Linked DNA regions of Homo sapiens: all the other regions are reported to be linked to region 1. Evidence: microRNA targets listed by miRTarBase, many of them from high-throughput screens and not tested one by one. Region 1 holds a microRNA gene; each other region holds the end of a gene's coding sequence.
Evidence for each region. The annotated mature microRNA hsa-miR-520c-3p reads AAAGUGCUUCCUUUUAGAGGGU and lies in region 1 at 1,990-2,011, opposite strand. An mRNA with a match to its seed (bases 2 to 7 or 8) in the 3' UTR can be bound and repressed. Matches are read on the target gene's strand: a 7mer-m8 pairs with bases 2 to 8, a 7mer-A1 pairs with bases 2 to 7 and ends in A, and an 8mer does both.

Region 1 (4,352 bases):
GAGGCTAAGGTGAAAGAATCACTGGAACTCCACGGTGAGTGGAGATCCTGCCACTGCACTCCAGCCTGGGCGACAGAGGTGGGAGTTACAGTGAGTGGAGATCCTGCCACTGCATTCCAGCCTGGGCGACAGAGCCAGTCTCCATCTCAAAATAAAATAAAATAAATAAAATAAAACAAAATAAAATAACAGGCTGGGCACGGAGGCTCACACCTGTAATCCCAGCACTTTGGGAGGCCGAGGCGGGTGGATCATGAGGTCAGGAGTTTGAGACCATCCTGGCCAACGTGGTGAAACCCGGTCTCTACTAAAAATACAAAAATTAGCTCGGCATGGCGGTGCGTGCCTGTAATCCCAGCTACTCAGGAGGCTGAGGCAGGAGAATCGCTTGAACCACGGAGTCGGAGGTTGCAGTGAGCTGAGATTCCGCCACTGGACTCCAACCTGGTGACAGAGCGAGACTCCGTCTCACACACACACAAAAATAAGAATTAATAATAATAATAGAGCAAGACATGACCCCAAGAGATCTAGTTTGGAGTGCAACCCCTCCCTCTCCAGCCTGGGCAACAGAGACTGGTCTTGGAAAAAAATAAAACCAAAACAGAACCCTGCCGTCATCCAAGCCTGATAAGCATGCTCTGCGAATGTATTACCAAGATCAGCATCAACTTCAACGTTGCTTTTCTCAAACCGTAACACTCTAAAGAGAAGCGCTTTGTTTTCTTTCAGACAACAGAAAGTGCTTCCCTCCAGAGAGTCACAGCATGAGATCTTCTCGCTCCAGCCATCTGGGATTTTTGTTGAAATTTTCCTTGACCAGGTTAAGATGGACACAAATATAAAGATGCATTTATTCGCTGTTTGACCGTTTTCTGGAATCCAGAACATAAACCTCTAAAAGGACAATCTCCAGGCTCAGCAGATTAGCCTTGTTCATCAAGGGGAATCCTCCTAAGTTTTGTCTCCAAGGAGAAAAAGCAATGCCCACTACACATACCTTACCTTTAACCAAGAGAATTGAGGTGGATTTCTAGAGAACAGCAATGGATTGAGTCACATGGTCACTTGAGTTCCAGCACAGGGACACACAGTCATGATGGGAGCATCCAAAATGGAATCTAAATTTGCCAGGCGTGGTGGTGCCCACCTGTAATCCCAGCTACTCAGGAGGCTGAGGCAGGAGAATTGCTTGAACCCGGGAGGCGGAGGTTGCAGTGAGACGAGATCGTGCCAATGCACTCCAGCCTGGGTGACAGGAAAGAAAAAAAGAATATGCATTGTCTTACACACAAACATTCTCCAGGATAGAGCACTGCCTAGGCCGTAAAAGCTCCTCAATAACATTTGTACAGAAGTACGGGTGGAGTGCAGTGGCTTACACCTCTAATCCCAGCACTTTAGGAGTCGAAGGCGGGAAAATTACATGAGCTCGAGTTCAAAACTAGCCTGCCCAACATAGTAAAACCTCATCTGTAAAAATACAAAAGATAGCCAGGTGTAGTGGTTCATGCCTGTAGACACTAATTCAGGAGGCTGAGGTGGGAGGTAGAGGCTGCAGTGAGTTGAGGTCACAACACTGCACTCCAGCCTGGGCAATAGAGCCAGATGGTGTCTCAAAAAAAATTAAAAAAAAAAAAAATACACAAACAAAAACAACCCCAAAGTGATATAAGAGTATTCTCTGTGTGCAGAAGACTATTTTGTGTGAATATAATTATACATAGAAGATTATATGATAACATGTATATATTTTGGAGACCCTGTCTCAAAAAAACAAAGTTCCATGTACTATATGCTCACATAAAGAATAATTCCTACATACTAGTGCTTGGGCAGCAAGAACGAAACTCCATCTCAAAAAAAAAAAAAAGAAAAAATCAAAACAAAAACAGAAGCCCACCATCATCCATCTCTGATGATAAGCATGCTCTGAAAATGTATTACCAAGATCAGCATCAACTTCAATGTTGCTTTTCTCAAACGGTAACCCTCTAAAAGGAAGCACTTTCTTTTCTTTCAGACAACAGAAAGTGCTTCCCTCTAGAGGACGACAGCCTGAGATCTTCTTGCTCTGGCACTGTGGATTTTTTGTGGGAATCTTCCTTGACCAGGTTAAAATGGACGCAAAAATAAAGATGCATTTATTTGCCCTGTTTGCATGTTTTCTGGAATCCAGAGCATAAATCCCTAAAAGGACCATCTGCAGTTCTTTGCTTCAAAGAATCAGCAGGTTAGCCTTGTTCATCAACGGGCAATCCTCCTGAGTTTTGTTCCCAAAGAGAAAAGGCAATGCCTACTACACATACCTTATCTTTAACCAAGAGAATTGGGCTGGATTTCTAGAGAATAGCAATGGATTTTGAGCCAAGTGGTCGCTTGAGTTCCAGTACAGGAGCGCACAGTCCTCATGGGGGCATCCGAAATGGAATCTAAGATGTTGAAGAATATACACTGTTGTAGGCACAAACATCCTGCAGGGTAGACAACAGGCTACCCTGTAAACGCTCCTCAATAAAATCTGAGCAGAAACAGACGAGTATAGGTGGGGCACAACAGCTCACACCACTAATCCTAGCACTTTAGGAGGCCAAGGTGGAAGATCACCTGAGCTAAGGAGTTCGAGACCAACCTGGGCAACATGGGGAAACCACATCTGTACAAAAAAACCAAAAGTTAGCCAGGTGTGGTGGTGTATGCCTGCAGACAGCTATTCAGGAGGCTGAGCTGGGAGTTGGAGGTTGCAGTGAGCCGAGATCGCACCACTGCACTCCAGCCTGGGCGACAGAGTGAGACTCTGTCTCTAAAATGAATAAGTTAAAAAATAAATACATAACAATAATACAAAAATTAGCTGGGCGTGGTGGCATATGCCTGTAATCCCAGCTGCTCGGGAGGCTGAGGCAGGAGAATCATTTGAACCTGGGAGGCAGAGGTTGCAGTGAGCAAAGTTCCTGATACTGAGCTCCAGCCAGGGTCACAGAGCAAGACTCTGTCCCAAAAAAGAGGGCCACTTGAACCCAAGAGATCTAGGTTGGAGGGGCCACCATACTCCAGCCTGGGCAACAGACACCCTGTCTTAGGAAAAAAAACCAAAAAAACCCCACAAAACCCCAACATCATCCAAGTCTGATTATAAGCATGATCTCCAAGATCAGCATTAACTTCAATGTTGTTTTTCTCAAAGAGTAATCCTCTAAAAGGAAGCGCTTTCTCTTCTTTCAAGCAACAGAAAGTGCTTCCCTCTAGAGGGTCACAGCCTGAGCTCTTCTTGCTCCAGCACTGTGGGTTTTTTGTTGGAATTTTCCTTCACCAGGTTAAAATGGACACAAAAATGAGGATGCATTTATTGGCCCTGTTTGCATGTTTTCTGGAATCCAGAACATAAAACCCTAAAAGGACCATCTCCAGTTCCTTGCTTCAAAGTCTCAGCAGGTTAGCCTAGATCATCGAGGGACAATCCTCCTGAGTTCTGTCTCCAGAAAAAGCATTGCCTACTACACATACCTTACATTTAACCAAGAGAATTGGGCTGGATTTCTAGAGAACAGCAATGGATTTTGAGCCAAGCGTTCACTTGAGTTCCAGCACAGGGACACACAGTCCCGATGGGAGCATTCAAAACTGAATCTCCCATGTTGAAAAATATACATTGTTGGCCGGGCGCAGTGGCTTATGCCTGTAATCCCACCACTTTGGGTGGCTGAGGCGGGCGGCTCACATGAAGTCAGGGGTTTCAGACCAGCCTGGCCAACATGGTGAAAAAAAAAATACAAAAGTAACCGGGCGTGGTGACGGGTGCCTGTGATTCCAGCTACTCAGGAGGTTGAGGCAGAAGACTTGCTTGAACCTGAGAGGCAAAGGTTTGAGTGAGCCGAGGTCCTGCCACTGCCCTCTGGCCTGAGTGACAGTGAGACTCCATCTCAAAACAAATAAATACATGAATAAATAACATGCAAATATTAGCCAGGCATGGTGTCAGGCACCTATAATCCCAGCTACTCAGGAATGTGAGGCAGGAGAACTGCCTAAAACTGGGAGGTGGAGGTTGCAGTGAGCTGAGATCACGTCACTACACTCCAGCATGGGTCACAGAGCAAGACTGTCCGAAAAAAGAGGACCATTTGAGCCCAAGACACCTAGGTTGGAAGTGCCAACACACTCCAGCCTGGGCAAGAGACCCTATCTTAGAAAAACAACAACAACAAAACAGGACCCCACCATCCTCCATGTCTGATGGAAGCACGCTCTGCGAAGTTATTACCAAGATCAGCATAACTTGTTGGGAGGCCAAGGTGGGCGAGTCACCTGAGGTCAGGAGTTCCAGACCAGCCTCGCCAACAAGGTAAAAT
Region 2 (3,000 bases), not on the chromosome of region 1:
ACCAAATATTACCTGCTTACTCTTCGTTTAATTGAGCCTCTCTAAAAATCATTTGGATAATGTCTGTTTGTTTGTTTGTTTTAACAGAAAGAATGCAATGAAGATTGTAACTTCAAAGAACTAATTCTGGAAAACCATTACAACACATATGCATCAGCTAAATGGACACACAACGGAGGGGAAATGTTTGTTGCCTTAAATCAAAAGGGGATTCCTGTAAGAGGAAAAAAAACGAAGAAAGAACAAAAAACAGCCCACTTTCTTCCTATGGCAATAACTTAATTGCATATGGTATATAAAGAACCAGTTCCAGCAGGGAGATTTCTTTAAGTGGACTGTTTTCTTTCTTCTCAAAATTTTCTTTCCTTTTATTTTTTAGTAATCAAGAAAGGCTGGAAAACTACTGAAAAACTGATCAAGCTGGACTTGTGCATTTATGTTTGTTTTAAGACACTGCATTAAAGAAAGATTTGAAAAGTATACACAAAAATCAGATTTAGTAACTAAAGGTTGTAAAAAATTGTAAAACTGGTTGTACAATCATGATGTTAGTAACAGTAATTTTTTTCTTAAATTAATTTACCCTTAAGAGTATGTTAGATTTGATTATCTGATAATGATTATTTAAATATTCCTATCTGCTTATAAAATGGCTGCTATAATAATAATAATACAGATGTTGTTATATAAGGTATATCAGACCTACAGGCTTCTGGCAGGATTTGTCAGATAATCAAGCCACACTAACTATGGAAAATGAGCAGCATTTTAAATGCTTTCTAGTGAAAAATTATAATCTACTTAAACTCTAATCAGAAAAAAAATTCTCAAAAAAACTATTATGAAAGTCAATAAAATAGATAATTTAACAAAAGTACAGGATTAGAACATGCTTATACCTATAAATAAGAACAAAATTTCTAATGCTGCTCAAGTGGAAAGGGTATTGCTAAAAGGATGTTTCCAAAAATCTTGTATATAAGATAGCAACAGTGATTGATGATAATACTGTACTTCATCTTACTTGCCACAAAATAACATTTTATAAATCCTCAAAGTAAAATTGAGAAATCTTTAAGTTTTTTTCAAGTAACATAATCTATCTTTGTATAATTCATATTTGGGAATATGGCTTTTAATAATGTTCTTCCCACAAATAATCATGCTTTTTTCCTATGGTTACAGCATTAAACTCTATTTTAAGTTGTTTTTGAACTTTATTGTTTTGTTATTTAAGTTTATGTTATTTATAAAAAAAAAACCTTAATAAGCTGTATCTGTTTCATATGCTTTTAATTTTAAAGGAATAACAAAACTGTCTGGCTCAACGGCAAGTTTCCCTCCCTTTTCTGACTGACACTAAGTCTAGCACACAGCACTTGGGCCAGCAAATCCTGGAAGGCAGACAAAAATAAGAGCCTGAAGCAATGCTTACAATAGATGTCTCACACAGAACAATACAAATATGTAAAAAATCTTTCACCACATATTCTTGCCAATTAATTGGATCATATAAGTAAAATCATTACAAATATAAGTATTTACAGGATTTTAAAGTTAGAATATATTTGAATGCATGGGTAGAAAATATCATATTTTAAAACTATGTATATTTAAATTTAGTAATTTTCTAATCTCTAGAAATCTCTGCTGTTCAAAAGGTGGCAGCACTGAAAGTTGTTTTCCTGTTAGATGGCAAGAGCACAATGCCCAAAATAGAAGATGCAGTTAAGAATAAGGGGCCCTGAATGTCATGAAGGCTTGAGGTCAGCCTACAGATAACAGGATTATTACAAGGATGAATTTCCACTTCAAAAGTCTTTCATTGGCAGATCTTGGTAGCACTTTATATGTTCACCAATGGGAGGTCAATATTTATCTAATTTAAAAGGTATGCTAACCACTGTGGTTTTAATTTCAAAATATTTGTCATTCAAGTCCCTTTACATAAATAGTATTTGGTAATACATTTATAGATGAGAGTTATATGAAAAGGCTAGGTCAACAAAAACAATAGATTCATTTAATTTTCCTGTGGTTGACCTATACGACCAGGATGTAGAAAACTAGAAAGAACTGCCCTTCCTCAGATATACTCTTGGGAGAGAGCATGAATGGTATTCTGAACTATCACCTGATTCAAGGACTTTGCTAGCTAGGTTTTGAGGTCAGGCTTCAGTAACTGTAGTCTTGTGAGCATATTGAGGGCAGAGGAGGACTTAGTTTTTCATATGTGTTTCCTTAGTGCCTAGCAGACTATCTGTTCATAATCAGTTTTCAGTGTGAATTCACTGAATGTTTATAGACAAAAGAAAATACACACTAAAACTAATCTTCATTTTAAAAGGGTAAAACATGACTATACAGAAATTTAAATAGAAATAGTGTATATACATATAAAATACAAGCTATGTTAGGACCAAATGCTCTTTGTCTATGGAGTTATACTTCCATCAAATTACATAGCAATGCTGAATTAGGCAAAACCAACATTTAGTGGTAAATCCATTCCTGGTAGTATAAGTCACCTAAAAAAGACTTCTAGAAATATGTACTTTAATTATTTGTTTTTCTCCTATTTTTAAATTTATTATGCAAATTTTAGAAAATAAAATTTGCTCTAGTTACACACCTTTAGAATTCTAGAATATTAAAACTGTAAGGGGCCTCCATCCCTCTTACTCATTTGTAGTCTAGGAAATTGAGATTTTGATACACCTAAGGTCACGCAGCTGGGTAGATATACAGCTGTCACAAGAGTCTAGATCAGTTAGCACATGCTTTCTACTCTTCGATTATTAGTATTATTAGCTAATGGTCTTTGGCATGTTTTTGTTTTTTATTTCTGTTGAGATATAGCCTTTACATTTGTACACAAATGTGACTATGTCTTGGCAATGCACTTCATACACAATGACTAATCTATACTGTGATGATTTGACTCAAAAGGAGAAAAGAAATTATGTAGTTTTCAATTCTGATTCCTATTCACCTTTTGTT
Region 3 (3,000 bases), not on the chromosome of region 1:
AGGTGTGGTCACACAGGCCTGTGGTCCTAGCTACTTGGGAAGCTGAGGTGGGAGGATCACTTGAGCCTAGGATGTCAAGGCTGCAGGGAGCCGTGACCACTGCACTGCACTCCAGCCTGGGCGACAGAGTAAGACGCTGTCTCAAAAAACATTTTTTTAAATTTTTAATTAAAAATGTATTAATTATGTTGGTCTTTCACTGTCTCGTAACAAAAGTTAAGACATTTTTCCTTTTGTTTTTCTCCTCTCCATCCAGGCCAGTCAGTTGGAGGAGCTTTTTCCAGTGCAAAGACAGCTATGTCTTCATGGCTTTCCACTTTCACCACTTCCACCTCCCAAAGTCTCACTGAGCCACCAGATGAGAAGCCTTGAGCAAGGCGTCAGAGGCTGCTATTGCTTTCTGAGGTTTAAGTGTCCCCTGTCTGTCTGCTGCTCCCAGGCTGTTACTAGCCACAGATCCACAGCAGGGGACCATATGTCGAACTGTTTACATGGATGTTGCTCTAAGTGAATGTTTCGGGATGCCGAAATGATGAAATCACAGCCATAGCAGGGATGGCTTTCCAGGTTGGGGTTTCAATTGACTACTTTTATTTCAGTCTGAGCCTGATTAAAACATACAGTGAACCTTCTAATGAATTTTGAGTTCTGATATTGTACATTGGTTTACTTTAGAAGAGTTTTTACTTATGTAAATTTTGTTCTGTTTTGGTGTTTGAATATCTAGATGGTCACTGTAATTTATACTTGCTAAAATTAATTTATATTACCATTTTCTCTAAAGTTGGCCTTAAAACGTGCTTATAAAGTGAAGGGGTCATACAGTTGGGCCTTCATTATTTTGCTGAATTATGTGATGATTTTTTTGCTTTCTACCCACAAAACATTTATTAATTCACTTCCTCCCAGAAACATGAAAGTTAGAGGTGGTAGTTCTGAGGATTGGGTGTTTTGTTTTACGTTTTTAGTTTGTTCTTTCCACATCCTTAAAAACTTGGTTTCAGACATCAAGGAGTATCACTGTGCTTTCCTCCTCTTTATAACTGTGCAGGTGGGTGTGCAGAGAAATAGCAGAGTGATGGTTCGATGATACTGAAGCAGTTTAACATGAATGTGTCTGTAGGGCAATACTTTCAAAGAAGACCTATGTGTTTATTTTTCAACCGCAGTCATGTTGCAGTCTTACAAGCACTTTTTTTTTATTCCAGAGTTTGTGCCATCTGTTTCTCTTTTTTTTTTTGGGGGGGGGGGGGGGGCGGGGTCTCACTCTATCGCCCAGGCTGGAGTGCAGTGGTGCCATCTCGGCTCACTGCAACCTCCATCTCCCGGGTTCAAGCAATTCTTGTACCTCAGCCTCCCAAGTAGCTGGGATTATGGACATGCGCCACCATGCCCAGCTAATTATTGTATTTTTAGTAGAGACGGGGTTTTGCCATGTTGGCCAGGCTGGTCTTGATCTCCTGGCCTCAAGTGATCTGCCCGCCTCAGCCTCTCAAAGTGCTGGGACTACAGGCATGAGCCACTGCGCCTGGCCTGTTTCTTTTTTAAACAGTTTTCTATTGGGTGTTTGCAGACCTACAGCTTTTCTCGTAGTCTTATTCATAAAGCTTTTCAAAGCACTTAGTCTTCTACTTCCCTAACTGAAAGTCCTCCTATAATCAATCCCTACCCCCTTCTAGAAGTATCTTAAAAGAAAAGCAAGGTGATTGTAAGTATTAAATAGAAATCTCATCTTAGTTTATATTCAGCAAAGTAAGAGGCAAGAGAAGAAAACTGCAGCCTTGACATCTGTCATCTGAGAAAGGATATCTGGTTTCATGTTAGGCACATACATGCATGTGTGTGCCATCTACTGATGATTTGTACACAGCTGGACCTCGTGTGTTTGCCATGCTCAGCTCTCATTTGCTTTTCAAGGATACCTGGGATGGCTGTTCTCAGAGAGTACTTACGGGGAACAGACTGCCTTTTAGTAACAAGGGATACTTGGGAAATACATTGTGAGTATGATCTATCCCAGATTGCTGGGGAAATAAAGGAGGGCCCTGATTATATTTGGTTTATTCCTCACTAAATGTTTAAGAAGTAAATGCTCCCAAGGCATTTGAAATGAACATAGAAACATAATCTAAATGTCTCTAAATTTTCCACTTTGTGTTTTCTAAACACAAATTGTATTACTCATTTGAGCATAACTCAAGAATTCAGCGATGATAAATTGAAGGGCTGAATGTGAGAACTCCATTAATTCCACTTCTTCCAAGAAAGTTAACCTCAGGAAATGCTGTTTGAAGAGAAGAAAGTAGTACCAAACAAAAACCTTAAACAGTACTTGAATCTTTTTTGCGCTGAGACTATAAAGAATTCATTCTAACATCTTGTTTCATAAGGGCCACATCATTCGTTGGAGCATGATAGTGTGATTTGTGTACAATTGTTACCTCTCAGCTGCTGAAGTTCACACTTCAAGGATCTAGGAGCTCTGTGAGGGGTCGTCCAGCAAGATGCTGATTTGTCTTTCAGTTGGTATGGTTTCTGTGATCGGGGTAAACTCCCGTCTCCCACTATTCAAAAGCAGCCCAACTCATGCTTTGGAATCCACTGAAATAAAAATAGTTACATGAAGTTTAACTTTGCTTTAATATCACTTGTTCCTCATTGAATATACACTTTGATCGGACTTTCTATTAACATTTCTAGCTAAGAGTTTGACTCTTAGTGGTCACTTTACTGACTTTCCAACATAAAACAAGTATCTCAGAAGATACAACTTTCATCATAGAAATGGTCAAAAGACCATAGCTATATTTCCTTCAGGTTCTGGGAGGTGGAGTTTTTCAAGGAACACTGGCTGTTGTATTGTTGGCAGGGGCCCCAAGGCAGCTCGCACAATCAAAGGCAGGAAGCCTCACCCCTGGTCCTGTGACCCCCCCCCCCCACACACACACATACTTCAGGCTTGGATTCTAGGCTCCAAGTGGCCAGCATAGAAGCAGCAGC

Region 2: the mRNA of FGF7 is a reported target of hsa-miR-520c-3p. Seed matches in the 3' UTR shown: 7mer-m8 at 1,375-1,381 and 7mer-m8 at 1,841-1,847.
Region 3: miRTarBase lists AVL9 as a target of hsa-miR-520c-3p. Seed matches in the 3' UTR shown: 7mer-m8 at 1,188-1,194 and 8mer at 1,616-1,623.

The regions. Positions count from the first base shown.
Region 1 is chr19:53,705,165-53,709,516 of GRCh38, reverse strand. It overlaps MIR520C (microRNA 520c), which reads right to left and starts at 2,064; the gene lies at 1,978-2,064. It overlaps MIR526A1 (microRNA 526a-1), which reads right to left and starts at 3,265; the gene lies at 3,181-3,265. MIR518C (microRNA 518c) reads right to left here and starts at 782; the gene lies at 682-782. LOC107985346 (a long non-coding RNA gene) reads right to left here. Exons shown (of 5, transcript XR_001753998.1): 4 at 2,310-2,432; 5 at 1,208-1,248.
Region 2 is chr15:49,484,223-49,487,222 of GRCh38, forward strand. It overlaps FGF7 (fibroblast growth factor 7), which reads left to right. Exons shown (of 4, transcript NM_002009.4): 4 at 88-3,000. The coding sequence ends at 282. All of the region lies in intron 11 of FAM227B (family with sequence similarity 227 member B), which reads right to left. Among named protein-coding and RNA genes, the nearest start is that of FGF7, 62 kb to the left of the region's middle.
Region 3 is chr7:32,583,536-32,586,535 of GRCh38, forward strand. It overlaps AVL9 (AVL9 cell migration associated), which reads left to right. Exons shown (of 16, transcript NM_015060.3): 16 at 257-3,000. The coding sequence ends at 372. It also overlaps the pseudogene DPY19L1P1. Among named protein-coding and RNA genes, the nearest start is that of AVL9, 90 kb to the left of the region's middle.